Homo sapiens: one gene and its partners. The protein of the gene in region 1 interacts with the protein of each later gene in a pairwise test. Each region holds a gene or a part of one and is shown in the gene's direction. Other genes may lie near its edges. The genes, in order: CCDC136, ATP5PO, JMY, SHFL, ZNF20, HMG20B and HDAC4.

What was found.
Region 2: the proteins of CCDC136 (region 1) and ATP5PO interact in binary tests that used the Homo sapiens proteins (3 or more experiments, as listed by UniProt).
Region 3: the proteins of CCDC136 (region 1) and JMY interact in binary tests that used the Homo sapiens proteins (3 or more experiments, as listed by UniProt).
Region 4: the proteins of CCDC136 (region 1) and SHFL interact in binary tests that used the Homo sapiens proteins (3 or more experiments, as listed by UniProt).
Region 5: the proteins of CCDC136 (region 1) and ZNF20 interact in binary tests that used the Homo sapiens proteins (3 or more experiments, as listed by UniProt).
Region 6: the proteins of CCDC136 (region 1) and HMG20B interact in binary tests that used the Homo sapiens proteins (3 or more experiments, as listed by UniProt).
Region 7: the proteins of CCDC136 (region 1) and HDAC4 interact in binary tests that used the Homo sapiens proteins (3 or more experiments, as listed by UniProt).

Annotation. Positions count from the first base shown.
Region 1 is NC_000007.14:128,801,770-128,806,003, forward strand, and holds part of CCDC136 (coiled-coil domain-containing protein 136), read left to right. Parts: intron 1-2,880; coding exon 2,881-2,992; intron 2,993-3,589; coding exon 3,590-3,755; intron 3,756-3,991; coding exon 3,992-4,132; intron 4,133-4,234. UniProt on the Homo sapiens protein: May play a role in acrosome formation in spermatogenesis and in fertilization.
Region 2 is NC_000021.9:33,908,937-33,913,170, reverse strand, and holds part of ATP5PO (ATP synthase peripheral stalk subunit OSCP, mitochondrial precursor), read left to right. Parts: intron 1-771; coding exon 772-882; intron 883-3,959; coding exon 3,960-4,089; intron 4,090-4,234. UniProt on the Homo sapiens protein: Subunit OSCP, of the mitochondrial membrane ATP synthase complex (F(1)F(0) ATP synthase or Complex V) that produces ATP from ADP in the presence of a proton gradient across the membrane which is generated by electron transport complexes of the respiratory chain.
Region 3 is NC_000005.10:79,238,896-79,243,129, forward strand, and holds part of JMY (junction-mediating and -regulatory protein), read left to right. Parts: intron 1-4,234. UniProt on the Homo sapiens protein: Acts both as a nuclear p53/TP53-cofactor and a cytoplasmic regulator of actin dynamics depending on conditions. In nucleus, acts as a cofactor that increases p53/TP53 response via its interaction with p300/EP300.
Region 4 is NC_000019.10:10,089,140-10,092,086, forward strand, and holds part of SHFL (shiftless antiviral inhibitor of ribosomal frameshifting protein), read left to right. Parts: coding exon of another isoform or gene 1-239; intron 240-339; coding exon of another isoform or gene 340-350; exon of another isoform or gene 351-511; intron 512-517; coding exon 518-556; intron 557-758; coding exon 759-908; intron 909-2,110; coding exon 2,111-2,214; exon of another isoform or gene 2,215-2,336; coding exon 2,337-2,491; intron 2,492-2,930; coding exon 2,931-2,947.
Region 5 is NC_000019.10:12,130,276-12,134,260, reverse strand, and holds the end of ZNF20 (zinc finger protein 20), read left to right. Parts: intron 1-275; coding exon 276-1,674; 3' UTR 1,675-2,911; downstream 2,912-3,985. UniProt on the Homo sapiens protein: May be involved in transcriptional regulation.
Region 6 is NC_000019.10:3,575,444-3,579,817, forward strand, and holds the end of HMG20B (SWI/SNF-related matrix-associated actin-dependent regulator of chromatin subfamily E member 1-related), read left to right. Parts: intron 1-96; coding exon 97-217; intron 218-817; coding exon 818-864; intron 865-1,109; coding exon 1,110-1,182; intron 1,183-1,448; coding exon 1,449-1,664; intron 1,665-2,537; coding exon 2,538-2,670; intron 2,671-3,065; coding exon 3,066-3,078; 3' UTR 3,079-3,640; downstream 3,641-4,374. UniProt on the Homo sapiens protein: Required for correct progression through G2 phase of the cell cycle and entry into mitosis. Required for RCOR1/CoREST mediated repression of neuronal specific gene promoters.
Region 7 is NC_000002.12:239,051,108-239,055,341, reverse strand, and holds part of HDAC4 (histone deacetylase 4), read left to right. Parts: intron 1-508; coding exon 509-593; intron 594-1,740; coding exon 1,741-1,882; intron 1,883-2,205; coding exon 2,206-2,245; 3' UTR 2,246-4,234. UniProt on the Homo sapiens protein: Responsible for the deacetylation of lysine residues on the N-terminal part of the core histones (H2A, H2B, H3 and H4).

The DNA of each region.
Region 1 (4,234 bases):
AAAAGAAAAATTTAAATAAAAATTTTAAAAAGACAGTAAAGGGGAAAAACCTACCCAGATGTTACATAACCAGTCCATGGTGGTGTAAGAAATAGCACCATGGAGAGGTACCCTGGGAATTCTTCAGAGAGTCATTGGGTCTTTGTTGATTTGACTATGGGAAAACCCTTCCTGGGAAAATTTCCAGCTCTAGGATGGGCAAAGAGGGACCTGTCACCTTGGGAAACTCTTCCTGCTGCCCTGGCATCATGGTGCTTTGCCTGGAATGCTTTATAGGGGGCCTCTGGCCCTGCTTCCAGGTGCAGGGATGCTAATTCTTAGGTTCCATTAGCTCTCCTCAAAATAGAAGCTTTGGGGGGCAACAAATCGGAACAAAAGACAGCTAGAGAAGAAAAGTTATTCTGAGTGATACATGAGGTACCCAAAAGCCTAGAGCCCTGCTTTCAGACAGTGAGTCTCCCAGCTAGTTGCTAGGATTCATGACATCAGAGAGTTTGCCTTTATTCTGAGGCTAGATTTATAATCTGAGTATAATGGAGGTCCTATATTTGGCCAGGTCAAGCAGAGGCAATCAACAAGGAATCAAAGAACTGCAAGTTTTTCCAGCTGTATCAAGCCTCTCAGAAGAGCCTTTAGATTAAATGGTGCTGGGAGAAGAAGGTTGGCACAGTGGGAAGGCTTGGGCTGGAGTCAAACAGACCTGAGTTCAGTATCTCAGCTCCACTAATTAGCAGGATGAACGTAGGAGGTCTGGTTATGGTCTTTCTCTGAGCCTGTTTCTATATCCAGGATATGAAATCAAAATTGGTTAATAAAACCTTATAGCTAGATGGGATCCTGAAACAGGAAAAGGACCTTAGGGAAAATGTAGAGAAATCCAAGTAAACTATGGAGTTTAGTTAATAGTAATGTATCAATATTTGATTCCTTAGTCATGACAGGTATATCATGGTAATGTAAGATGTTGACAATTAGGGAAATTGGGTGAGAACCCTCCCAGGAAACTCCGTACTACCTTTGCAACTTTTTTGTAAATCTAAAACTATTCTAAAATTCAAAGTTTATTTAAAGAAGAAAAAAACCTTACAGAGCTATTTTGGGAATTAAATGAAATGTGAAGCATGTTGAAATCACTTGCACACTTACCAAATCTGAGGCTGAAACTATCAAGTCTAATGCTTAGCGCATGGTTAGTTTTCATTAAAGATTAGTTTCCTTCCTCCCTTATATGGTAATCTGCAGTATTCTAAGGAATTCTGATTAGAATTAAGAGGAAACATTAGAAGTTACTTTTAGGGTGTTGAATCTTCCAGCAGGTAAGATAGGTCTTGTGTTCTAATTAGAGCAAGTTAGTGTTCTTTAAATATCAGTAGAATTAATGTTCTAAGAGACATAATTCTTTTTCAATTTTTTGCTAGTGGACACAGAGTCTTGCTCTGTTACCCAGGCTGGTCTCGAACTCCTGGGCTCTAATGATCCTTCTACCTTGGCCTTCCAAAATGTTGGGATCACAGGTGTAAACCACTGCACCCGGCCAACATAATTCTTAGTCATGAAGCAACAAAACAGATACAGGTGTTTGTATCATCACAGCCTTAAAAGTGGGCATGGTGACTCATGCCTGTACTCCCACCACTTTGGGAGGCCGAGGCAGGTGGATCACTTGAGCCCAGGAATTTGAAACCAGCCTGGGCAATGTGGCGGAACCCCATCTTTACAAAAAAATTCAAAAATTAGCCAGGCTTGGTGGTGTGTGCCTGTAGTCACAGGTACTTGGGAGGCCGAGGTGGGAGGATCACCTGAGTCCAGGGAGGTCAAGGATGCAGTGAGCCATGACTGTGCCACTGCACTCTGGTCTGGATGGCAGAGTAAGACTATCTCAAAACAAAACAAAACCAAAAAGGAAAAAGTATAGGTATAGGTGACTGGTGCTTAGAGACATGTGCTGGAGTATTTCAACCGGATCTCTTCTAATGCTTGAGGATGATATGTGAGTCTGGTTAGGATGGGCCTGTCAGCAGATAAAAGGCCATTAGAAAGAATTCCTTTTTTTTTTTTTTTTTGAGACAGAGTCTCACTCTGTCACCCAGGCTGGAGTGCAGTGGCACAGTCTTGGCTCACTGTAACCTCTGCCTCCAGGGTTTAAGCAATTCTCCTACTTCAACCTCCTGAGTAGCTGGGACTACAGGCATGCACCGCCACGCCTGGTTACTTTTTGTATTTTTAGTAGAGACAGGGGTTTTGCCATATTGGCCAGGCTGGTCTCAAACTCCTGACCTCAAGTGATCTGCCCACCTCGGCCTCCCAAAGTGTTGGGATTACAGGCTTGAGCCACTACACCTGGCAAGAATTCTTTACCACATCCAGACCAATGTATTTGGTGTGGGAATAAAGAACATAAAAGGAAACTCAGAATGCCTGAAAGGCAGGTACTGGCAGTCACATCTGACAGTTCACATCTCTCAGCTTTTTGTACTAAAAGCATAATTGGAAGGTAATCATAAACAGTTGAATGGAAATTTTACATACAGTAAACTTTTGAAAGTTTTTACATACAGTAAAAATTTGAAAGTTAATTAAACTTTCAAAAATTGCTAAAAGTTCAAGAGTCTGCTTCGGTTGAGGCTTTGAAGATGAGCACACAGGGTAAATCTTCAGGGCAGATGAGAAGAAGGACAGCTATTGGGAAGAGGAGAAAGACTCACTGCACTGTGGAATTTCCTGGGCCCTGTCTTCTAAGCCTCTACCTTTTTTCTGTCTTTAGAAAAAGAGAAGCTCTTTAACCTTCTGCTCTCAGGTTTCAAGACAGGAAAACTGGGGGCTGGTCATCAGTGCTTTCCTTTCCTCCCGGTCTCATCTCTCTCTGCCTGTCCTCTGCAGAAGAACTGCAGGAGCTGCGGGAACGCTACCATTTCCTGAATGAGGAATACCGGGCCCTGCAGGAGAGCAACAGCAGCCTCACGGGGCAGCTTGCAGATCTGGAGAGTGAGAGGTACAGCTGTCTCTGGAGAGTGAGAGGTCATGGGGTTCCACAGGACTCTGCCTTACCTTGGGCTTTCCCTGAAGGCAGATGCCAGGGCAGTGAGCGTTCCTTTGCTCCTGGAGACCCAGTCCTTTCCATGGTTTCCAAAGGATACAGATACCACCTACAAGCAGACATGGGGATCCGACCCAATTATCTCAAGACTAGAGGGAGTGAGTTCTGAAGTTTACTTCTGCTCTAGGCACTGGGTTCTGGTTTGCTCTGCCCTAAAGTGGATCAGAAGAGATTCTTTTATTGTCTGCATAGACTTGTTTCAGTCTAATGGCAGGCACAATGCTTCCAGATTGGAGTGGGCTTGACTAGGCCTAGCCTCAAAACTAACTGGACTGGCACTCTAAGGGTCTCCCAGAGCCAAACACACCTTTGCAGATTGAGGGGCTGGAGACTTTCTGTAGTCTTTTAAGCATGTTTATCTGAGCGGTGAGTCACAATAGAAGGCCCCTTACTATCTTTGGCCTAAAATGAAGGTATCAGGACAAAGCCTGCATGGCTGGTGATGCCAGGCAGAACTCCCTTCAAGCATAGCTCTGCGGTTCTGAATTGCAGGACACAGAGAGCAACAGAGAGATGGCTGCAGTCCCAAACACTGAGTATGACGTCAGCAGAGTCTCAGACTTCAGAAATGGATTTCTTAGAGCCTGATCCTGAAATGCAGTTGTTACGGCAGCAGCTACGGGATGCTGAAGAGCAGATGCATGGCATGAAGAACAAGGTAGGGCACAGAGGGTGGGGAAGGCAGGCACATTTCTTGTCTTTCTTTCACCTTCTCCCAGCCTGTGGTAGAAACATCTCCATAGGCATCCACTGTGGAGGGAGATAGTACTCTGGGGTCTCACTTGCCTGATGTAAATCTTCCAGTCAAAGAGCGCCATGCTTTCCCCAAGCTTGTTCTTGGAGCATATGTGGTATCTGTAGTAAACAAGCCTCCCTGTTCCATTTCCCACATAGTGTCAGGAATTGTGTTGTGAGTTGGAAGAGCTACAGCATCATCGCCAGGTCAGTGAGGAGGAGCAGAGGCGGCTGCAGAGGGAGCTCAAGTGTGCTCAGAATGAGGTGCTTCGGTTTCAGACCTCCCACAGTGTCACCCAGGTAAACACTGCCCGGGGAGGCATCTGGGGTGGGGGCAGAAGGGCCTCATGGAGGGGCTGCTTCAACCGGGGTGGGCACAGTGAGTATGGCTGTGCTCTGCTG
Region 2 (4,234 bases), on another chromosome or scaffold:
ATAACAGTGTTAAGGAGTAACTGGTCTTCCCATTTTACAAAAGGGGAAACTGAGGCCCTGGGAAAATTTACCTGAGGTTACTCAGCTTAGTCCTAGAGCTGGACTGGAACTAAATCTTTCTCATCCAAGCCTGAGCTTTCCCACTACAACCATACAGCACCACTAAGAACATGTAGTCATACATTGATGGTAGAAAAAAAGTCTATAGTTTATTGTGAAAAATAATTCAAGCATCAGGTTTTTTTGTAAACTGCCAAAGGGCTCTGTTACACTGAACATCGATAGGGAGGCTATGTAAGGGAAAATGTGTAGTGTTAGTATGAAATGTATAAAAGTATACTTGTGTGTTTCATAAACACCTGTTTTCCTAGCTCTAACATACTCGAAACTGTCTATCAGTGTTCACAACCTCCCATACTTGAAACTAAATAGTTACTGAGTTCAAAGGAAACATAAGCTTATCTCAAAATTAAAGTACAAGTAATTGATAAAGGTATGTAAACCTGGAAGGGACTTTAGACAATGCCTACTAAGCCCCTCATTTTACAGATGAGGAATTGGAGGCTCAAAGATTGAGTGACCTGACCAAGGAAACATCGCTAATTTATTTGCAAATTGCCATTTAGGACAGCTCTTGAATGACATATTTAAACTGTTTTGTGTTAAAGAGATACATTTTTTAAAATATAAATTTTAAATTCTGCTCTTGAGAGTATACTATTAACTGATTTTCCTTTTTCTTTCCTCTCCTATTTCACCTTTTTTTTAAAGCCTCCTGTTCAGGTATACGGTATTGAAGGTCGCTATGCCACAGCTCTTTATTCTGCTGCATCAAAACAGAATAAGCTGGAGCAAGTAGAAAAGGAGTTGTTGAGAGTAGCAGTAAGTAGCTTTCCTATTCATTACATATGAAGTTCCTGTTTGTATATTTTTTCCTTTGGTTGTTTGTGCATTCCTAATGAGGTGTATCCTACAAGAAAAAACTGGGAAAAAGCCATTGTCTGTAAACACATTTTTAGTAATAATATTGGGTTTTTATTATAAGACATATAAAAAGAACAAACAGATACATATAAGGATATTAATATTAGGAACCAAGATTAGGGGCTAAGAAAAGGTAGAAATATAAGATTAAAATGGATGGTAATTTAGGAAAATTGCTATTTCAGAAGAGAATTTAAAAGCTACCTTTAAAAATCTATGCTTATAACTGGGCACAGTGCTCACGCCTGTAATCCCAGTACTTTGGGAGGCTGAGGCAGGCAGATCAGGAGGTCATGAGTTCAAGACCAGCCTAGCTGACATAGTGAAACCCCATCTCTACTAAAAAATACAAAAAATTAGCGGGACGTGGTAGTGAACACCTGTAATCCCAGCTACTCCGGAGGCTGAGGCAGAATTGCTTGAACCTGGGAAGCCGAGGTTGCAGTGAGCCGAGATCGCGCCATTGCACTCCAGCCCCGGACGGTACGAGACTCCGTCTCAAAAAAAAAAAAAAAAAAAAAAAACCTATGCTTATGGGCTAGGTGTTTAGAATATATTGTGATTTGGTTTTACTGAGAATTTGTTTTCATGAAACCTTTTCCTCAGGTTTTAATTGCCATATTCTATGCTTGTAGAATCAGAGGAGGCTCAGATATGTCTTACAGGTTGTTTTCATTTGGTAGAGATGCCTTTGCAATTGCCAGAACCCCAGAAGTAACCATGTAGACCTTTTCATTGTTTTGGTAAACCTCTTAATTATTTTGTTCCCAAAATGTGAGGGAAGAATAACAGGGTGGGGCGCGCTGGGCAGCAGAGTTAGTAAAGGGGCATGGGCTTCCCAGTAGTAGTAGAGGACTGACAGGCAAAGACTGTGAGGCTGCTGCAAGATGTTTTTTACTTTTTTTTTTAAACATGAAAAGCAGAATAAATAAACCGTATTACCAGAAGCCTACATTGTAACTGAATAGGAGAATGTCTGCTTTCGTTTTCACCGAATTTTCTAGTTAACAAGTTTCTACACATTCTGTTGCTTCCTTCGATTTTCTAGCGCCACCACTGGCAGTAAGGTCTGCATTAAAAAAGGTGAGGGAGACGCAGTCTGGTATATAGCCTCTTCAGAGGAAGTTTGGTTTTTTCTTCATTTTAAGATTCTTCATTCTTTAATTCACATATCTGCAAGTTTTTATTGTTTAGAAAAAACAATTCATAGGCCAGTTGTATAGAGTAATAATACTTACGTTCTATATTAATCATCGTATGTATAGTCTATAAGTATTACTGTTCTGTACTGTTTATGTTTTATTCATTTTTCACTTGAGCTTCTATTGGAACTTCCGTCTTAACAGGCAGAATAATTTTAGCTCCATATTCCTTCCTTGATCCATTTATCTCTGCAGATAATGCTTAAGGTCTTAGCTGGTGTGATAAACTCTTATGATTCTCTCAGAGCCCAGGAGCCCAGCCCTGTTGTTGGAGACATTTGGGGGAAGGGCATGCAGGAACAGACGGGGTCTCACACAGGCATTTTTGGAGGTGATGGTTATTGTCTGCTACTTGTCAGTTATGCCCATTTTAAACGGAAACAATCATGTTTACAATGGAGAGAATTACTTGGATTGTGGATATTAGAATAGAGTTTGTCTAAAGCCTGGAAGTCAGTCGAGACATGGAGAAAAAGGGAGGCAATTACCTTAAGACACTGAATATTAGCAGGGTTTTGGCACTAAGAGGGAAGGATGATACAAGGATACGCACTGTCCTCTGGATGATGCAGGAGACACAGATAAACATGAAAAACTAGGTAACCCAAATTCCAGAATGCTTTAAATCTGTATATTCCTGCATTTTTTATGGAAAAATGTCATTTCTGTGGGGTCACTCAAGTGGAAATGTTAGCATTGGATGATAGTATCTGACCAGTATCCTGGATCAGAGGCAGGATTCTGGCCAGGAGCCTGGGAGGAGGTGCTAGGAGCGTAATTGAAAAGCATAGAGAGGTGTGTTAACTGAAGGTGCTCAACTGGAAACTGCTGTTCGTTTGTTGGAACTCTGGAGCAACATGCTGGAAGCTGCACTTGGTCACTGAATTCAGACACTGTGATACAACAAAATGAGAAGAACGTTGTTTCCCATGATGGTTGTGCTCCTGTTTTATTGTCCACTCTGTCTCCCAGACTCTTTGGGGCCGCTCTGGCAGCACCAGAGGCCTCACAGAATCTGCTGGGTTCCCTGGACTCTGTAAGAGGCAGGGCCCCTCCAAGGGAGCGGTGCGGAGGCCTCTGTGGTCAGAGCACAGTTGTGAGGTCTGCACTCTAGAAATAGCACTGCTAGAAAACCAGACGACTCCTCTCTTAAATATATTAAAGTATGCAGTCTAATGAAGGTTTGGCTGTTTAGTGTTTTATAATCTTTCTTGAAAAGCAAAAACAAATTTAAGAAAGTTCGTACAGTATTTTTAAATTTTTTTGAGGAACATCATTCTATATAAAATCCTGGTGCAGTGCACAGTGTATTCTGAAAGGCAGTCAGAAAATTGTTTGATTATAATCTTTTTTTCATATGTTCTTCGGCAGTGCTAATTTAATTCATAAAATATTTAATTCATAAGAAAGTGTTTGTATGGCCGGGCACAGTGGCTCATGCCTGTAATCGCAGCACTTTGGGAGGCCGAGGTGGGTGGATCACTCGAGGTCAGGAGTTTAAGACCAGCCTGGTCAACATGGCGAAACCCCGTTTCTACTAAAAATACAAAAATTAGCGGGACATGGTGGTGCAGCTATTCGGGAGGCTGAGGCAGGATAATCGCTTGAACCCGGGATGTGGAGGTTGTGTGAGCCAAGATTGCGCCACTGCACTCCAGCCTGAGCGACGGAGCAAGACGTTGTCTCCAAAAAAGAAAGAAAGAAAGTGTGTGCATGGCACATCCTTCATTTGTGCTCTAAAAAATTTAAGAAATTATTTTTTGATGCTTTCAGCAAATCCTGAAGGAACCCAAAGTGGCTGCTTCTGTTTTGAATCCCTATGTGAAGCGTTCCATTAAAGTGAAAAGCCTAAATGACATCACAGCAAAAGAGAGGTTCTCTCCCCTCACTACCAATCTGATCAGTGAGTATTAGAACTTTTTCATTTGAGGTGTCTTGAAACTATGACTGGAAATGTGGTCCATGGACTGTGGGCGGCATCAGCATCACCTGGGAGCCTGTTGGCAGTGAAGAATCTCAGGCCTCACAGCAACCTGCTGAATCAGAGT
Region 3 (4,234 bases), on another chromosome or scaffold:
CTCGTGATCCGCCCGCCTCGGCCTCCCAAAGTGCTGGGATTACAGGCGTGAGCCACTGTGCCCGGCCTGAAATGCCCCTTTTAATGGTGTTTATATTCCTAAGATTGTGTTGTTATCTGCTTATGTATATATAATAGTTGAACCTTGTTGTTAGATTAGGGAGCTAGAGCCTCATGTTTTTTTCGTAGAATATTAGATATTTTTCTTTATTAGATTTGAGTATTTAAGAAATGTTTGTTTCTCACTTATACCATAGTACTCTCTTACAACTTCCCGAATCCAGATTTTCACTGCTTCCTGTTGGTTTACTGTATGCTAAATGTCACCCACTATAACATGATCCTAGAGTTCCAGGGATCTGTTTTTATTTCCCTTTTTTATCACCTCACTTCGGGAGTCTACCTTAAATTATTTTGAAGGAAGTGACAAATCTTAAGTGACCACATATATTCTCAGAAGTGTTTGGTTAATATTGACCTGTATTTCTCTTAAACTGCAAGAACCGTTAGTGCTTCTTTCTCTTATTAGATTTACAGATATATTTTTTAAAATACATATTCTTAAAAATCCCTTAATGAATGGGCCTGTCTGATTGTAACTTTTTGGATACTCAGAAAAAGCGACTGTCAGGCCGGTCGCGGTGGCTCATGCCTGTAATCCCAACACTTTGGGAGGCCGAGGCGGGCGGATCACGAGGTCAGGAGATCGAGACCATCCTGGCTAACACGGTGAAACCCCGTCTCTACTAAAAATACAAAAGAAAAAATTAGCCGGGTGTGGTGGCGGGCACCTGTAGTCCTAGCTACTGGGAGGCTGAGGCAGGAGAATGGCGTGAACCCAGGAGGCGTAGCTTGCAATGAGCTGAGATCATGCCAGTGCACTCGAGCCTGGGCGACAGAGCGAGACTCCGTCTCAAAAAAAAAAAAGAAAAGAAAAAGAAAAAGAGAAAAAGCGACTATCTCCGGTTTTTTAATTCAAATGGGTCAAAAATAAGCTCTCAAAAAATATAATTTTCTAGAACTCTTTAAAAAGGGGATTACATTTTTTAAAAAATGTGTTCCTAATTAAGGTTCTCTTGACCATAATGATTTATTTTCTTTAACAGAAAATTATACTTTTTTTCTTTCTTTTTTTTTTTGAGATGGAGTCTCGCTCTGTCGCCCAGGCTGAAGTGTAGTGGCGCGATCTTGGCTCACTGCAACCTCTGCCTCCCGGGTTCCAGTGATTCTCCTCCCTCAGCCTCCTGAGTAGCTGGGATTATAGGCGTGTGCCACCTTGTCCGGCTAATTTTTGTATTTTTAGTAGAGATGGGGTTTTACCATGTTGGCCAAGCTGGTCTCGAACTCCTGACCTGGTGATCCGCCTGCCTCAGCTTCCCAAAGTGCTAGAATTACAGGCGTGAGCCACCGCACCCAGCCTCCCCCCGCCCCCTCCAAACAGAGTTTTGCACTATTGCCCAGGCTGGACTGTACTGGTGCAATCTCAGCTCACTGCAACCTCCACCTCCCGGGTTCAAGCAGTTCTCCTTGCTCAGCCTCCCAAGTAGCTGTGATTACAGTCGCCGCTACCATGCCTGGCTAATTTTTGTATTTTTGTAGTGACAGGGTTTCCCAGTGTTGGCCAGGCTGGTCTTGAACTCCTGACCTCAGGTGATCTAACTGCCTCGGCCTCCCAAAGTGCTAGGATTACAGGCGTGAACCACTGCACCCGGCAACTTCAATATTTGAAAAATAGCCATCAAGGACAACAAATAGTTTCAGTAATAATGCCTATCTTGACTTCTGCTGGAAGATTGTGTCTTTAGATTATATTGGGGGAGGGAGGGAAGTGTGGTGTGATTGATTGGTGATGTCTGCCATGGGCATGATAATGAAAGTGTATAGGATGCTAGCCATGTATTTGTCTTAAGCTAATTAAATTTAACTTTGCTTTCTTAATAGTTTGCAGTAACATTTTTTAAGGTAACATTTTTATAGAAGTTGTGCCATGTTTGTGTTATTCTATTGACTTAGTTTGTGGAATTGGCTATAGCTTTTCAAGCTAGGTTTATCTGATAAATCAAATGCATTCTTGAGGATATGTTACTTTTGAGGATATGTTAGAATGCTTAGTCCTTTGGTCACTTACAATACTTAGTCCTTTTCCTTCTTTAATTTCTATGAATCTATTTTTTGGTCTTTTTTCCTACAGTATTCCTTTCCCTGTCCATTTAAAGGTTTCAACTTAAAATCACCTGTTTTTGTTCAAAATGGTTAGTAAGTTGTTGAACTTTTTTTTGTTTGTTTTTAATAGAACAGACTGTACAACTAGATTGTAAGCTTTTCAAGGTCCTTGGCTTTGACAATACCTTGGAACTCTCTTCTTTGCCACCCCTAGTTCAGGACCACACATCTTGTGAGCACTCTTAATTAGTGGATAAAGGAAACTAGAGAAGTTTTTAAAATTAATTTATTCTTACTATTGCAAGAATTTAAAGGACTTAGAAGATGTGTCCTTTTAATGTGAAGTTGTAAGTAAAATTTTTATAAATTGATAAGTGTAAATTCCTCAAAGGACAGTGTTTTTAAAACGAGAAATTTTCTTTTAGTACTTCAAAGGAAAATTTCTTAAAACATAAATAAATTCCTCAGTAAGAGGTTTTTACTTGGGGATGGTGAATTCCCTGTAAGAGGGGCTATGGATGGATTTTAATGGGGCGTCCTGCCGAGTTTTATATCTGTGGGCATGTGTGCATTTTAGAGAGAAAGGCAATAATGTGAGTCACAGGAATGTTTTGGTTTCACAGTGCGTTTAAAAGTTATGTTTATGCTATAATGTACATTATACTTCTTAGGGGCTAAATCCAAGTGAAAGGTGAAATTTGTTACTGGTATGTTTGAATTTGGACTTTTACAAGAGTTTACTATTGGAAGCAGTATTTATACAGTAGACACTGAATCAGTCCTTAAATGAATGCAGGTGCCACCAAGACCTCTTTGAACAGTTTTCAGCAGTAGCCTTGGTTGTTGGTCAGAGCTGAGGTTTGTATTAGTGTATGTGCGTTGGTGGCCCATACTGCAGCTTAGGTTTGACCTGGATTTTATAAATAATGGTTTCTGTATAAGGACAGCTATTCTCAAGATGATTAACTGTGGTGCTTTAGATAGTAAACCTTAATTATGATGGTAGGCTTGATTAAGATCTAATCATCAGTGTTCATTTTGGAATTTATTATGTTTATAAAGATGTGCTCAATTCTAACTTCTCTTCTGTTGAAACCACGGTTTGGAAGTAGCATGTGTTTTCAAAATTATCCGTGTAAGCCACATAATAAATAGCCTGTTGAGTGAGTGGAGTCAGAAACACCTAGGTTGAAAATAGGACTAACCACTTCTGATGACCTGCTTAGTTATTTAACCTCTTTTAAAAAGGAAGGTGGGGGAAATAAAGGATGTCTTAAGATTTGAGTAAGACAGTATGAGAAAGGGCCTAACAAAGTGCCTGGCACTTACTAAAGAGGCTTCCAGGAAGTGTTATTTTCCCTTTTTTCATGTAACAAGGATTATCTGGTTTTCCATTCAGCCCTTTTTGTGGGGACTGTAACTAATATTTATTATTCACTATCTGCTGAGATCAGTGGGTGTTTTATACCTATTTTACTGAGGCAGAAAATGAGACTTAAAGAGGTCCTGTGGACTTCACCAAGGCTAAACAGCTGAGTAACCAAGCTCCGATGAAAGCCTAGATTTGTCTTAATCCAAACGTGTGCCTTTTCTGCCATGCCTGTGGCCTGTTGGGGTTCTTAATCCAAGGGACTGTATTCCTTCCTTAAAGAGAAAGGATGTCAATCTCTACTCTTGAGAATTGGGGAGTGGTATTATTTTAAAATGCAGTCAGTTCAATAATGACTTTTTTTTTTTTTTTTTAAAGACAGTGTCTCACTCTGTTGCCCAGGCTGGAGTACAATGGCAGTATCTCAGCTCACTGCAACCTCTGCCTTCCAAGTTCACGCAATTCTTTTGCTTCAGCCTCCCAAGTAGCTGGGATTACACGTGCATGCAAACACTCAATAACTGCTTTTGATTTAGGATAACTCATTTCGAATTAATTATGACAAGCATGAGGTAGGGCAGTCTGAATGTGATGTTTTAGAGAAAGGTGTTGCCTAGTGGTGCAAGGATAGGTTTATGTTAGAGAAGAGTGCCCAATTGTGGGGAAGTTTTTTGTTTGTTTTGTTTTTGTATCTTAATGGCTA
Region 4 (2,947 bases), on another chromosome or scaffold:
CAGCAAGCAGGGGCAGCTGCGATTTGAACCCTGGCCACCTGGAGTCAGAGCCTGGGCTCTAACATGCCTGTCAGTGGGAACCCAGGGGGCAGGGAGTGGCTTGCCCAAGTCCCCACAGCTGGAAGTGATACAGCTGGGATTTGAACCCACATCTCTCTCCCACTTAGCCGAGCACAACGTGGCCTCAAAGGGGCGATATGTCACAACATCAACAAGCATGTGGCATTTGCAGGCAGGAAGTGAGTATGGGGGTCAGGCTAGCCTCACTCAGGCAAGCCCTCCCCTAAGCCTCAGTTTCCCCATCTGAGCAATAAGGTAACAGGTGTGCCCACCTCTCAGGGCTGCTATGAGGACAACTGAGGCCACACACCTGGCTCTCAATAAGTGAGTGGTGCTCTGTGAGCTTCTGGCGAGTTAGGGGCACCCTACTCATTGCGGCCGGGGGCCTCCCCCAGCAAACGGGTGGAAAGAGGCCTGAGCCCCATCCCCAGTTTCTGCCCCTGCTATCTCCACCCAGGATCCACCAGAAGATATGAAGCAGGACCGGGACATTCAGGTGAGTTGGTGGCTAGGGCTTGGGATGGGGGAGTTGGGAGGGGGACATCTGCAGGCACAGAAGGATGTCCATTAGGGCAGGAGGGGAGATATTCACTGGGGCAGGAAGAGGACTCGTCTGTAGGGAGAGGAGGGCTGATGCTTATGTTGGTGCAGAAGGGGTGACACCCCCCCACCTCATCCCCACCTGCCCCATTCCACAGGCAGTGGCGACCTCCCTCCTGCCACTGACAGAAGCCAACCTACGCATGTTTCAACGTGCCCAGGACGACCTTATCCCTGCTGTGGACCGGCAGTTTGCCTGCTCCTCCTGCGACCACGTCTGGTGGCGCCGCGTGCCCCAGCGGAAGGAGGTGATGACCTAAAACTTAACCTCGACTTTGACTGTCCCGAACTCCACTCCTGACTCCTATCCTCAGTGACTGTACCTCTGACCTAAGGATTTCAATCACTGAGAGTCCAATCCCTGACCTCCAAACTCAGAGCTCAGCCTTGATCTCTGATCCCAACCCCTGACCCAGGACTGGACTTCTGACCTTAAATGTGAGAAGCCCAATACCTCCTTACCCCAGAACCTGACCCTTGACCCACAATTGAACAGCTACTACAGAAATCAAACCTGGCCAGGCGCAGTGGCTCATGGCTGCAATCTCAGTGTTTTGGGAGGCTAAGTAGGGAGGATCGCTTGAATTTAGGAGTTTGAGACCAGCCTGGGTGACAGGGTGAGACCCTGTCTCCAAAAAAAAATGTGTTTTGAAGACAGGGGGTCTCGCCCTGTCACCCAGGCTGGAGTGCAGTGGCGGGATCATAGCTCACTGCAGCCTCCACCTCCTGGCCTCAGGTGATCCTCCCACCTCAACCTCCCAAGCAGCTGGGACTACAGGCCTGCGCCACCACACTTGGCTAATTTTTGTATTTTGTGTGTGTGTGTGGAGATGGGGTTTTGCCATGTTGCCCAAGCTGGTCTCAAACTCCTGGGCTCAAGCAATCTACCACCTCAGCCTCCCAAAGTGCTGGGATTACAGGCATGAGCCACTGTGCCTGGCAAAAAAAAATTTTTTTAATTAGCTGGGAGTGGTGGTGTGTGCCTGTGGTCCCAACTACTCAGGAGGCTGAGGTGGGAGGATCGTTTGAGCCTGGGAGGTCGAGGCTGCAGTAAGCCATGATCACAACACTGCATTCCAGCCTGGGTGACAGAGCAAGACTCTGTCTCTAAAAAAAAAAAGAAAGAAAGAAAAGAAACCAAATCTGACCTCAAAAACACAGCCCCAAATCTGGCTTCTGAACCTCCTGACTAGTAGTTCACTTCTGGTCAATGCTTAACTAGTTCTTGCAAAAGAGGCAGGAAGCCAAGATGTGTAGTGTTTGCCAATTTCTGTGGTGTAAATATTCCCACCATGGTCAATATCAGGCTACCCACGTGAAGTCACTGATTGAGTTGGGTTGCTCAAGCTGAGGCCAGCCGCTGCAGCACACTGCTAGCCCTGACCCCAACCTCAGACACCTCTGACAATCCTTGGTCCCCTCTCTGTACCTTCCTGCCCACCACCACCAGGTATCCCGGTGCCGGAAATGCCGGAAGCGCTACGAGCCAGTGCCAGCTGACAAGATGTGGGGCCTGGCTGAGTTCCACTGCCCGAAGTGTCGGCACAACTTCCGGTGAGGGCGCTGACCCCCAGCTCCCCCTCAGCCCTGCCCTACCCCAGCCCTGCCCCTCCCTGCCCTGGCCCCACCCTGGCCCAGCCTCGCCCTCGGACCCTCACAGCCCTGCCCGCCCCCAGGGGCTGGGCACAGATGGGGTCCCCGTCCCCCTGCTACGGGTGCGGCTTCCCCGTGTATCCAACACGGATCCTCCCCCCGCGCTGGGACCGGGACCCGGATCGCCGCAGCACCCACACTCACTCCTGCTCAGCTGCCGACTGCTACAACCGGCGAGGTGAGGCTCTTCTCCCCCAACAGCCTGGACAGTCTTTGTCCCCTTCTGTGCCTTTAAGTCCCCAAATCTCCACTCAGTCCACTTTGTCTCCCACAGCAGCAGCCACTGCTTCCACATGGCCTCCATGACCCCCCAGTCTCCGTGGTCTTGCCCAGGAGGCTCTGAGGTTTCACCCCAGTGGCCCGTGCCTGAGGGTCCCCATGGCCTCTGCCCCCATGGTCTCTGGGTTTGGGGCCCCTGTTTTGTCCCCTGTAATCTCAGGTGACCCCCATGTCCCCAGGTCTCCTGTATCTTCAACACCCCTGAATGTCCAGTTGTGCTGGTCCCCGTATCTGGTGGTCTCAGCTCCTCCCTAGAGCCCCGCGTGGCCTAAGTCCCCTCCTCCCCAGACTCTCATGGGACCTCCAGCCCCATGTCTGCAGCACCTCTCCCTCCCTAGAGCCCCACGTGCCTGGG
Region 5 (3,985 bases), on another chromosome or scaffold:
CCTCTGCCTCTGGGGTTCAGGCGATTCTCCCAACTCAGGCTCCCGAGTAGCTGGGATTACAGGCACCTGCCACCACGCCCAGCTAATTTTTGCATTTTTAGTAGAGACGGGGTTTCACCATGTTGGCCAGGATGGTCTCAAACTCCTGACCTCAGGTGATCTGCCCACCTCAGCCTCCCAAAGTGCTGGGATTACAGGAGTGAGCCACTGTGCCCGGCCCTATAAGTCACTTTTAATCAAACCGTTAATAATGTGCTTCTCATTTTTCACTGAAGTCTTATGAGAGAGAAACTCTGTGAAAGTAAAGAAAGTCATCACTGTGGAGAAAGCTTCAACCAGATTGCAGATGACATGCTGAACAGGAAAACTCTTCCTGGAATAACACCATGTGAAAGCAGTGTGTGTGGAGAAGTTGGCACGGGTCATTCATCTCTTAATACGCATATCAGAGCTGACACTGGACACAAGTCATCTGAGTATCAGGAATATGGAGAGAATCCATATAGAAATAAGGAATGTAAGAAAGCCTTCAGTTATCTTGACTCCTTTCAATCACATGATAAAGCTTGCACTAAAGAGAAACCCTATGATGGTAAAGAATGTACAGAAACCTTCATTTCCCATTCATGCATTCAAAGACACAGGGTAATGCACAGTGGAGATGGACCTTATAAATGTAAGTTTTGTGGGAAAGCCTTCTATTTTCTCAATTTATGTCTTATCCATGAACGAATTCACACTGGTGTGAAACCATATAAGTGTAAACAATGTGGTAAGGCCTTTACTCGTTCCACTACCCTTCCAGTACATGAAAGAACTCACACAGGAGTGAATGCCGATGAATGTAAAGAATGTGGGAATGCATTCAGTTTTCCTAGTGAAATTCGTAGACATAAAAGGTCTCACACTGGAGAAAAACCCTATGAGTGTAAGCAATGTGGGAAAGTCTTCATTTCTTTCAGTTCCATTCAGTATCATAAGATGACTCACACTGGAGAGAAACCCTATGAATGTAAGCAGTGTGGGAAAGCCTTTAGATGTGGCTCACACCTTCAAAAGCATGGAAGGACTCACACTGGAGAGAAACCCTATGAATGTAGGCAATGTGGTAAAGCCTTCAGATGTACCTCGGACCTTCAAAGGCATGAAAAGACACACACTGAGGATAAACCCTATGGATGTAAGCAGTGTGGGAAAGGCTTTAGATGTGCTTCACAACTTCAAATTCATGAAAGGACGCACAGTGGAGAGAAACCCCATGAATGTAAGGAATGTGGAAAAGTATTCAAGTATTTTTCTTCCTTGCGTATACATGAAAGGACGCACACTGGAGAGAAGCCCCATGAATGTAAGCAATGTGGAAAAGCATTCAGGTATTTCTCTTCCTTGCATATACATGAAAGGACACACACTGGAGATAAGCCATATGAGTGTAAGGTATGTGGCAAAGCCTTCACTTGTTCCAGTTCCATTCGATATCATGAAAGGACTCACACTGGAGAGAAACCCTATGAATGTAAGCACTGTGGTAAGGCCTTTATTTCCAATTACATTCGATATCATGAAAGGACTCACACTGGAGAGAAACCCTATCAATGCAAGCAATGTGGCAAAGCCTTTATTCGTGCCAGTTCATGTCGAGAACATGAAAGAACTCATACCATTAATAGATGAGAAATCCTTTTAGTGGAAGCAACGGGAGAAGCTTTCTGTTGTCCCACTTCCTTTGAAACACAAGAAAAGAGAGTGGTGAAAGAACCTCTGGATAACTGCTTTTTGAATTGAGAAGAGAGACTTGCGATAGGACAATAAAATCTAGAAGAACTTGGATGGTTTCGTAATACAATTCACCTATAGCCAATCTTGCATGAGATTTCAAAGGCACAGAAAAGGAAGGCATCAGTCACATATTAGAGGCCCCACACAGGGAGAGAGGTGTGTGGCTACCCGCTTCCAGCCCATTTTCCTGATTCTTTGGCTTGTTAATCGAGAATATCCCCCAAATCACTTGTCTCTGTTCCTCAGAGTTGTAGGTCTCCAGATATGTCCCCAGTGCTCCACATTAAAGATACATGCCCACTTTGCTGTTTCTTCAGAAATGTTAAAATGTTTACCAGAGAACTAATAAATGTTGTTATGGCTGGAAATACTCACTGATGCCCAACTCTTCTATAGATTGAGTTGGTTTAAGAGGTCTACTTTGTATTGCAAGCATTGTTGTTTCTACGGATTAGCGAGCCTGTTCTTGATTAAACCAACTAGATGGGAGCTTGTTCCTCTGCTGCATTGTGCAGTGATTGGTCTCACCAAGGGCTTTTATGTGAGAAGAGCCACCTTGCTCTTATCAGGAAATTTCAAGCATTTGCTGTTATTCACAACTGAATGTAATGTCTCACTTCGTTTTTAACTTTGTATGAGTATACCTGACTAAAAACACTAATGCGGTTTCTTGGCAACAAATACTTCTGTTCATGTATTTTAGAAATAAGCTTATTAACTGTTTATAACAACTGCATACTAACAATTATTATTTTTTAATGAAGAAGCTACATTACAACCTCCCATTAACATCATGTATTAGATCAAGTTGATAATGTTACCATGTTATCCGGTGGTCACTGTGAGTCAGTGTTGCCATGTGGATGTCAGGCATATTTTTCCTCATGTAGATTTTACTTTTCATGCTTATATTCTTAGTTTTTATCTGGATCATGAATTTTCATCTATTCTAAATACCAAAGGTGATCTCATGTTCTTATGAGTGACTTCTGACCAAAGACCACCAGTGGCATAAGTGTCGTCAAAGAGGGTGTAATAATATACTGTGGTAATGAATATGACCAAAAGCCATAGATGACTGTGAGATGTGTGAGATATTAAAAGATAGTCACATTTCGTGAGAAGAGAAAAATTTGGGGTATGTTTGCAATTTAAAGTGTTTTCTTCTGTCACATTTCAAGACATGGTTAAAGAATGAGGTTTTTTTTTATTTTAATTTTTTTTTTTTTGAGACGGAGTCTTGCTCTGTCGCCCAGGCTGGAGTGCAGTGACTCGATCTCGGCTCATTGCAAGCTCCGCTTCCTGGTTCACGCCATTCTCCTGCCTCAACCTCCCAAGTAACTGGGACTACAGGTGCCCGCCACCGCGCCTGGCTAATTTTTTGTATTTTTAGTAGAGACAGGGTTTCACCATGGTCTCGATCTCCTGACTTCGTGATCCACCCGCCTCGGCCTCCCAAAGTGCTGGGATTACAGGCATGAGCCACTGTGCCCTGCCAAGAATTAGTTATTTTTGTATTGATCCATCATGGTCACTGAAGAGCATCATCTCACATTGCAGGTGTATGACATGTGCCTGTTCAGGGGCAAAAGACTCGGCCTTCTGGCGAGGGGAGGCCAGCCATCAGACTTCTGGACCAGTTTTTACCATACTATTCTCTAAACCCTGATATATTCCCTACAATTTATGGACATTGTTAACCATAACATACCTCAGTTAAAATCTATAAATTCACTTCTTATCAAGGTATATACTATGATTTTATTTATTTATTTTTTGTAGAGATGGAGTCTCCCTGTTTCCCAGGCTGGTCATTGACTGCTGGATCATGTGATTCTTCTGTCTCCATCTCCCCAAGTTCTGGGATTACAGACATGAGCCACCACAATTGGCTACTACTTTTTTAAAAAAATCACCTTGAGTCCTATGGGGCCAATATGTTTTTGAAAACTGAATTTCCTGCCCAGTAAAGAACAAAGTCAGCATCACTATTCCAATCAAGTCTTTCTTTCTCTGGTAACATGCTGTTGATGCAAACTTGTCAGGAACCCTCTTATGCTAATATTATGAAGCTAATGACATCGTGGAAAAGTCATGCATGGAACAATCCGATCATTTCCTTTAAGGTGTCATGGGTGCTTCTCTTCACAAAAGCTTATTTCAGTCTCCCTAGAGTAAAAATCCCAGTCCCAGCAGACATAGAAGC
Region 6 (4,374 bases), on another chromosome or scaffold:
AGGAGAGGGGAGGGTGCTGTGAAAGCAGAGTGATAAAGACTGGATCCTGGCGTTGGAGGCTTCCCCTGCTTCAAGCCTTCTGGTGCTGCCCCCCAGCGGTACCTGGATGAGGCCGAGAGAGAGAAGCAGCAGTACATGAAGGAGCTGCGGGCGTACCAGCAGTCTGAAGCCTATAAGATGTGCACGGAGAAGATCCAGGAGAAGAAGATCAAGAAAGGTGGGAGGGGTCGGGCGCGGTGGCTCACGCCTGTCATCCCAGCACTTTGGGAGGCCGAGGCGGGTGTATCACCTGAGGTCAGACCAGCCTGGCCAACATAGTGAAACCCTCCCCCTCTACTAAAAATACAAAAATTACCTGGGCGTGGTGGCGGGTGCCTGTAATCCCAGCTACTCGGGAGGCTGAGGCAGGAGAATTGCTTGAACCCGGGAGGTGGAGGTTGCAGTGAGCCAAGATTGCGCCATTGCACTCTAGCCAGGGCGACAGGGCGAGACTCCGTCTCAAAAAAAAAAAAAAAAGAAAAAGAAAAATGAAAGGTGGGAGGGGCCGGTGCGAGCAGTTGGGGTCCTGCTCTGTGGGGTGCGACCTCAGCCCAGGCAGGGCCTCCCTCCGTGGGGCACAGTCCCGTGGGTTGGGCGGGGGAAAGATACATAGCCAGACAGGAGTGAAGGGGGCTCACTCGGTACAGCGATGGGGGATGCCCAGACGCGGGGCACTCAAGTGGGGAGCTGGAGCCGGCTGAGCAGCGCTGACCTAGGGTGCAGGGCGTGGTCCCTGGAGGCCTGGGAGGCTGACCCTGCCCTTCCCCTCCCCCGCCAGAAGACTCGAGCTCTGGGCTCATGAACACTCTCCTGAATGGACACAAGGTAAGCGACCTTCTTCCTCTCAAAGCACCTGGGGGAGAAAGGTCTGGAGGCTTCTAGAACCCTGAGTCAGAGCCAGTGCTCGCCCAGATGTGTGCAAGCAGGGGCGGTGCCACTGCACCGTGGGATCGCTGTTGATTGTACTCCCACCGGGGTGTCCCAGGAGACCCTCCTAGGCTTGGGGCACACCCAGAGAGCGTGGCTGCCTCCTACCACCAGTAAATTGCCACCTTGTCCCTTCGTCTTAGGGTGGGGACTGCGATGGCTTCTCCACCTTCGATGTTCCCATCTTCACTGAAGAGTTCTTGGACCAAAACAAAGGTGAGCGGTAACTGCGCTCCTGATGCGAACTCCGTGAAACTGGGTGGTAGAGGGGGGCGTGGGCCAGGAGGGCCCCAAGACTGCAGGAGGCGGATCGGGAGGTTCCCTATGAGCGTCCAGGCGCACGCTGTCGCTCCAGAGGCTGATGTGGAGCAGGAGGCAGAGGGCGCAGTGAGGGAAACCTGGGCAGGGGCACGTCCCGGGCAAAAGCCCGGAGGTAGGGGAAAGGGGAGGCGCAGGCTTTGACCCCGCTCCCCCCGGCGCAGCGCGTGAGGCGGAGCTTCGGCGCTTGCGGAAGATGAATGTGGCCTTCGAGGAGCAGAACGCGGTACTGCAGAGGCACACGCAGAGCATGAGCAGCGCGCGCGAGCGTCTGGAGCAGGAGCTGGCGCTGGAGGAGCGGAGGACGCTGGCGCTGCAGCAGCAGCTCCAGGCCGTGCGCCAGGCGCTCACCGCCAGCTTCGCCTCACTGCCGGTGCCGGGTGCGGGCCACGCCCATCTCCCAGTCCCGCCCCGGTCACCCGGCCCCGCCCGCCTCCCCCCCCCTCCTCCCTTCCCCCCTTCCCCTGTCGCCCGGCGCCGCCCATCGCCCCGTCCCCTCTTCCCCAGTCACCCGGCCCCGCCTATCGCCCCGCCCTCATCACCCCCAGCTCCGCCTCCTCCCCGACCCCCGCACCCCTACCCCATAGCTCCGTCTGGTTCTTCCCAGACCACACCCGAGCTCCGCTCCGCGCCCCGTTACTCGGCCGGCTCCCTGACCTCGCCCCCACCGACCGCGCCTCCCGGCCACGACCTCTCCCGACGCGTCCCCGCTTACTCGCTTCCTCCCGCAGCCCCTTTGTGCCCCCACCCTTCGCGCCCCCACCGCTCCCTACCGGCCCCACCGTCGCTGGCCCCTCTCCCTCGCCAGCCCCCGACCAGCCTGAGCACTGACCCAGCCTCCCCGCTCGCCACGCCACGTTCCCATTCACCCCACCTCCCCACGCCCCCGTCACCCATCCCTCCCCACGCCCCGCTGACGCCTGAGCCCCCTCCACCACCCCAGTCACGTCCCACGCGACCCCAGCCCCCCGGTGTCATCCCCACCTCCCCGACCTCGTTCCCTCCGTCCGTGACTGTCCTCAGCGGACCCTGGACGCCCGCCGCTCTAGCCCCGCGTCCCCACCCTGTCCCCGTCCTCGCCATCCTCCTGCCCCGGCTTACCTTAGCCCACCCTGCGCCGCTCCTGCGCTGGCGGTGTCCGGACCTCTGAGCGCCCGCGCGACCCGCCCTGAGTCACCCCCTACCGCTGCCCCTGGAGCCCCCGCCCCGCGACTCCCCGGCACCCTCGCCTGACCTTCCCGCCTGTCCCCCAGGCACGGGCGAAACGCCCACGCTGGGCACTCTGGACTTCTACATGGCCCGGCTTCACGGAGCCATCGAGCGCGACCCCGCCCAGCACGAGAAGCTCATCGTCCGCATCAAGGAAATCCTGGCCCAGGTCGCCAGGTGTGTGCCGGGCGAGGCGGGGCGGGGCCGGGGTTCAAGGCCCGGATGTGCCCGCCCTGGGGTTCCCCAGGTCCGCGAGGGCTGCTGGGTGGGACTCCGCAGCTTACTAGAGATCACCTCCCGGAGGGGCCTACCTGCGGTCGCCCCTGATGCACCAGTGCTAGGATGGCCATGGAGAACCCCGGGCCGGCGGGACCCACTCGGGGGCACCAGAACTTCCCTAAAGCTTCTCAGGGTGGATCCCAGCGCCCGGGTTAGATAGGTTCAACGCCTGTCCCCCAACCCTGGCATCTGTTGGAGCAGCTGATGGGCCATGGTCTCTGGGGTTCCCCAGGGCCGGGGTGGGGGCCAGAGATGATGAGGGCCTCATCCCGGGCCCTCCTCTCTCGTTTCAGCGAGCACCTGTGAGGAGTGGGCGGGCCCACGATGCAGAGGAGAAGCTGTGGGCGCGGCCCTGCCACACCCCACCCCGTGGACGAGAGGCTGGGGGTCCACCCTTTGGGGCCTGGTCCCATCCTGCACCTTGGGGGCTCCAGCCCCCCTAAAATTAAATTTCTGCAGCATCCCTTTAGCTTTCAATCTCCCCAGCCCCCTGAACCCGGAAAAAGCACTCGCTGCGCGATACACCCAGAAGAACCTCACAGCCGAGGGTGCCCCTCCTCGGAGGACAGCCACGCGCTACACTGGCTCTCCGGGCCACCCCCAGGACACAGGGCAGACGAAACCCACCCCCAGCACACGGCAGGACCCCCCAAATTACTCACTACGGGGGGCTGTGCCATAGGCCACACAGGAAGCTGCCTTGTGGGGACTTACCTGGGGTGTCCCCCGCATGCCTGTACCCCAGATGGGTGGGGGCCGGCTTTGCCCATCCTGCTCTCCTCCAGCCGAGGGACCCTGGTGGGGGTGGCTCCTTCTCACTGCTGGATCCGGACTTTTTAAATAAAAACAAGTAAAATTTGTGTTTTAAGCTTGTGAGTGTGTAAGCTTGTTTGGGGTGGTGTGGAGGGTTCAGAAGGTGCAGCCTGGGCCCCCCATGACATTCCCTGCTGGGGGCGCCAGGCCTGCTCTCTTTACCTCTAGCAGAGCCTCAGAGTTTCTCAGATAGGGAGACGGGAGCCCAAACTTGCCGGGGTTCACAGAGCAAGTCAATGGCTGGGCAGGTGTCTCCATCCCTCCCCTACCTAAAGTTGGGCATTGTGGGCTCAGCACACGTGGGGGACTTGAAGCACAGGGGACAGTCACGGCTGCTCAGTTCATCCTTCAACTTGTGTCCGCACGGGGGTTCAAGTCCACTTTGTAGCACAGTGACTTTGGGTGGGCCACGGTTTTGTTTATTGTGTAAAATACGCAACATGAACCTTACCATCATAGCCATTTTGTTTATTTATTGGAGACGCGGTCTCACTCTGCCACCCAGGCTGGAGCGCAGTGGCCCGATCATAGCTCACTGCAGCCTTGAACTCCTGGGCTCAAGCAATCCTCCTGCTTCAGCCTCCCAAACCCTGGGATTACAGGCGTGAGCCACCGCGCCTGGCCATTTTAGCCATTTTAAAATGCACAATTCAGTGGCATTTAGTACATCACAATTTTGTGCAGTCATCACCTTTATCTAATCTCAACGCATTCTCATCACCCCCAGAGGAAGTCCTGTCCTCATCAACAGTCACTCTCATCCCCTCCCCAGCTCCTGGCACCCACAAA
Region 7 (4,234 bases), on another chromosome or scaffold:
GTACTTAGGGAAAAACTCGGTGTGAAGGATTCCCTCTGAGAGATCTGACTACTTCTTCCATTTCATCTCCCCCGACCCCACCTTCCGCTGCCCTGGAAGAAAACCAAGATCAGGGGATATTCAGACATTCTTACTTATTAATAAAAGACAAAGGAAAGAAAAGTGATGAAGTAAGCGTCACTCCCCCTCATGGAACCCTGTGGCGTCGATGGCAGATACCAAGTTCACGTGCAGGTGCCAGCCCCACTCCTGGGGACTGTCTTTCTTCCTGCTACTTGTAGGAACCCACAAATATCTTATAGCGTCCTAAAAAAAAATCCACTTTTACAAAAAAATTATAAATACCACGGCACATTTGGCTTTTTAAAGTTATTTTTTTCTACTCTGTGGGCAAATGCACCCCACAAGGGTCTCTGTGCTCAGGAAACAGTTGCAGTCTCGGAACACCCGTCTAACGCACGTGTGGATTATATTGGCAGTCTTTATATTCTTATGCATTTTCTTCCAGCTTGATCCTCTCCCAGAAAAGGTTTTACAGCAAAGACCCAATGCAAACGCTGTCCGTTCCATGGAGAAAGTCATGGAGATCCACAGTAAGTTGCCTGGCTGGGTGCTCACAGGGGACACGCCCCTGGGGGTGGGACTGCACCACACCCCATCCCTGTCCCCCTATACCCCCAGCTCTTCTCCATCCCACTGCCGGCTGCTTCCCCAGGCCTGCAGCAGAAGGCCTTGCTTTCAGCTGCATTTCTTGAGCTGGTAGAGACTCACATTTAACCCCGACTGGATTTCCCCCGGCCTGCTGGGATGGTTCCATCAGCCCAATTTGTAAGTCTAGAGAATCAAGGCCCAGACAGTCTCAGTGTGGAGTCACTTGCTCTAGGTCCCCAGCTAGCAGCGGGGGCCATGGCTGTGAGCCTGTACCCTGGGGACTCCGGCCTCTTCCCTGGACCAGAGAAGCCCACGTCCTGACCTCAAAGAACCCTTGGCCCTGCAGAGAGGCAGGGTGTAGGCCCTCTGAGTTCTGGCACCGACCCTCAAGCAGCAGGTCCTGGGTGCAAGGGCGTGGCACGCAGCCTATCTCAGAGGCGCCTCCCACACCCTGTCATTGTCGCAAGCCCAGCTTGTCTTGCCTTTGAGATGACCCAGATGGTTGAGACTGTCCACAGAAGCAGGGGTAGTCCAGAGCTCAGCTCCCCGTTTCCCTGTGTGAGGGAGTCCTGGCTTCAGAGCCCTGAAGCTGACCCTGGGCCAGGCCCAGCCCTCCACATACACCCCCTTGCGCCTGACGCAGTACCCCTCCACCCCCAGCCTCTGTGAGGGCCCAGGCAGAAGACCCCTCAGCCCCAGCGACAATCCCCCAGCTCACCTGCTCCCAGAGATAGGAAGGCTCAACCCAGCAGGCTGGCAGCCCCCTGCCCTGGCCACCCAGGGCAGAAAGGGGCCCGTGAGCGTGGAAAGCCAGGCCTACAGGAGCCTCCCTCTGCAGTCCTAGGTGGGCCTGCTCCTGGAGGGACTCGAGCCACTCACAATGGGGAAACATTTCCAGAGATTTTTTGGGTCTTTGTGAGTTTGTAGCCATGCAGTCTTCTGCTTCGTGTCTCTTCAAAGACGGGTGCTTTTAAAATCATAAGGGATCAATCTGGTTTGAGGCTCAGGGTCCCGCAGGACCTTCCCGGGCCTCAGTGCATCCTGCTAAGTTGTAGTCACTGAGCGACTTTCCTCACCCCACCACCCCAGGCAAGTACTGGCGCTGCCTGCAGCGCACAACCTCCACAGCGGGGCGTTCTCTGATCGAGGCTCAGACTTGCGAGAACGAAGAAGCCGAGACGGTCACCGCCATGGCCTCGCTGTCCGTGGGCGTGAAGCCCGCCGAAAAGAGGTGAGCACCTGCCCTGCCGCCCGCCTGCAGGCTCACCCAGCCCCACTGTGCCCACTGACACACTATTCAGGGTCAGAACCTTTATGGCACATGCCCTGCCCAACAGACTAGAGACAGGCCAGTGTGGCCCCCTCCTTCCAGTGCCAAAGCCCCTTAGAGACGCATGAGGAGCATTAGATCCTGAACAGATGGACCCGGGGCTGCCAGGCCAGGGCTAGGCTGGCGGGTGGGGCAGCACACAGCCTTTAACCCACGTTCTGTTCTCTCCTCTCTGTGGTGCACCTGCCCCACGCCCCCATCTCCTTCTCTTGCGGGATCCACAGACCAGATGAGGAGCCCATGGAAGAGGAGCCGCCCCTGTAGCACTCCCTCGAAGCTGCTGTTCTCTTGTCTGTCTGTCTCTGTCTTGAAGCTCAGCCAAGAAACTTTCCCGTGTCACGCCTGCGTCCCACCGTGGGGCTCTCTTGGAGCACCCAGGGACACCCAGCGTGCAACAGCCACGGGAAGCCTTTCTGCCGCCCAGGCCCACAGGTCTCGAGACGCACATGCACGCCTGGGCGTGGCAGCCTCACAGGGAACACGGGACAGACGCCGGCGACGCGCAGACACACGGACACGCGGAAGCCAAGCACACTCTGGCGGGTCCCGCAAGGGACGCCGTGGAAGAAAGGAGCCTGTGGCAACAGGCGGCCGAGCTGCCGAATTCAGTTGACACGAGGCACAGAAAACAAATATCAAAGATCTAATAATACAAAACAAACTTGATTAAAACTGGTGCTTAAAGTTTATTACCCACAACTCCACAGTCTCTGTGTAAACCACTCGACTCATCTTGTAGCTTATTTTTTTTTAAAGAGGACGTTTTCTACGGCTGTGGCCCGCCTCTGTGAACCATAGCGGTGTGCGGCGGGGGGTCTGCACCCGGGTGGGGGACAGAGGGACCTTTAAAGAAAACAAAACTGGACAGAAACAGGAATGTGAGCTGGGGGAGCTGGCTTGAGTTTCTCAAAAGCCATCGGAAGATGCGAGTTTGTGCCTTTTTTTTTATTGCTCTGGTGGATTTTTGTGGCTGGGTTTTCTGAAGTCTGAGGAACAATGCCTTAAGAAAAAACAAACAGCAGGAATCGGTGGGACAGTTTCCTGTGGCCAGCCGAGCCTGGCAGTGCTGGCACCGCGAGCTGGCCTGACGCCTCAAGCACGGGCACCAGCCGTCATCTCCGGGGCCAGGGGCTGCAGCCCGGCGGTCCCTGTTTTGCTTTATTGCTGTTTAAGAAAAATGGAGGTAGTTCCAAAAAAGTGGCAAATCCCGTTGGAGGTTTTGAAGTCCAACAAATTTTAAACGAATCCAAAGTGTTCTCACACGTCACATACGATTGAGCATCTCCATCTGGTCGTGAAGCATGTGGTAGGCACACTTGCAGTGTTACGATCGGAATGCTTTTTATTAAAAGCAAGTAGCATGAAGTATTGCTTAAATTTTAGGTATAAATAAATATATATATGTATAATATATATTCCAATGTATTCCAAGCTAAGAAACTTACTTGATTCTTATGAAATCTTGATAAAATATTTATAATGCATTTATAGAAAAAGTATATATATATATATAAAATGAATGCAGATTGCGAAGGTCCCTGCAAATGGATGGCTTGTGAATTTGCTCTCAAGGTGCTTATGGAAAGGGATCCTGATTGATTGAAATTCATGTTTTCTCAAGCTCCAGATTGGCTAGATTTCAGATCGCCAACACATTCGCCACTGGGCAACTACCCTACAAGTTTGTACTTTCATTTTAATTATTTTCTAACAGAACCGCTCCCGTCTCCAAGCCTTCATGCACATATGTACCTAATGAGTTTTTATAGCAAAGAATATAAATTTGCTGTTGATTTTTGTATGAATTTTTTCACAAAAAGATCCTGAATAAGCATTGTTTTATGAATTTTACATTTTTCCTCACCATTTAGCAATTTTCTGAATGGTAATAATGTCTAAATCTTTTTCCTTTCTGAATTCTTGCTTGTACATTTTTTTTTACCTTTCAAAGGTTTTTAATTATTTTTGTTTTTATTTTTGTACGATGAGTTTTCTGCAGCGTACAGAATTGTTGCTGTCAGATTCTATTTTCAGAAAGTGAGAGGAGGGACCGTAGGTCTTTTCGGAGTGACACCAACGATTGTGTCTTTCCTGGTCTGTCCTAGGAGCTGTATAAAGAAGCCCAGGGGCTCTTTTTAACTTTCAACACTAGTAGTATTACGAGGGGTGGTGTGTTTTTCCCCTCCGTGGCAAGGGCAGGGAGGGTTGCTTAGGATGCCCGGCCACCCTGGGAGGCTTGCCAGATGCCGGGGG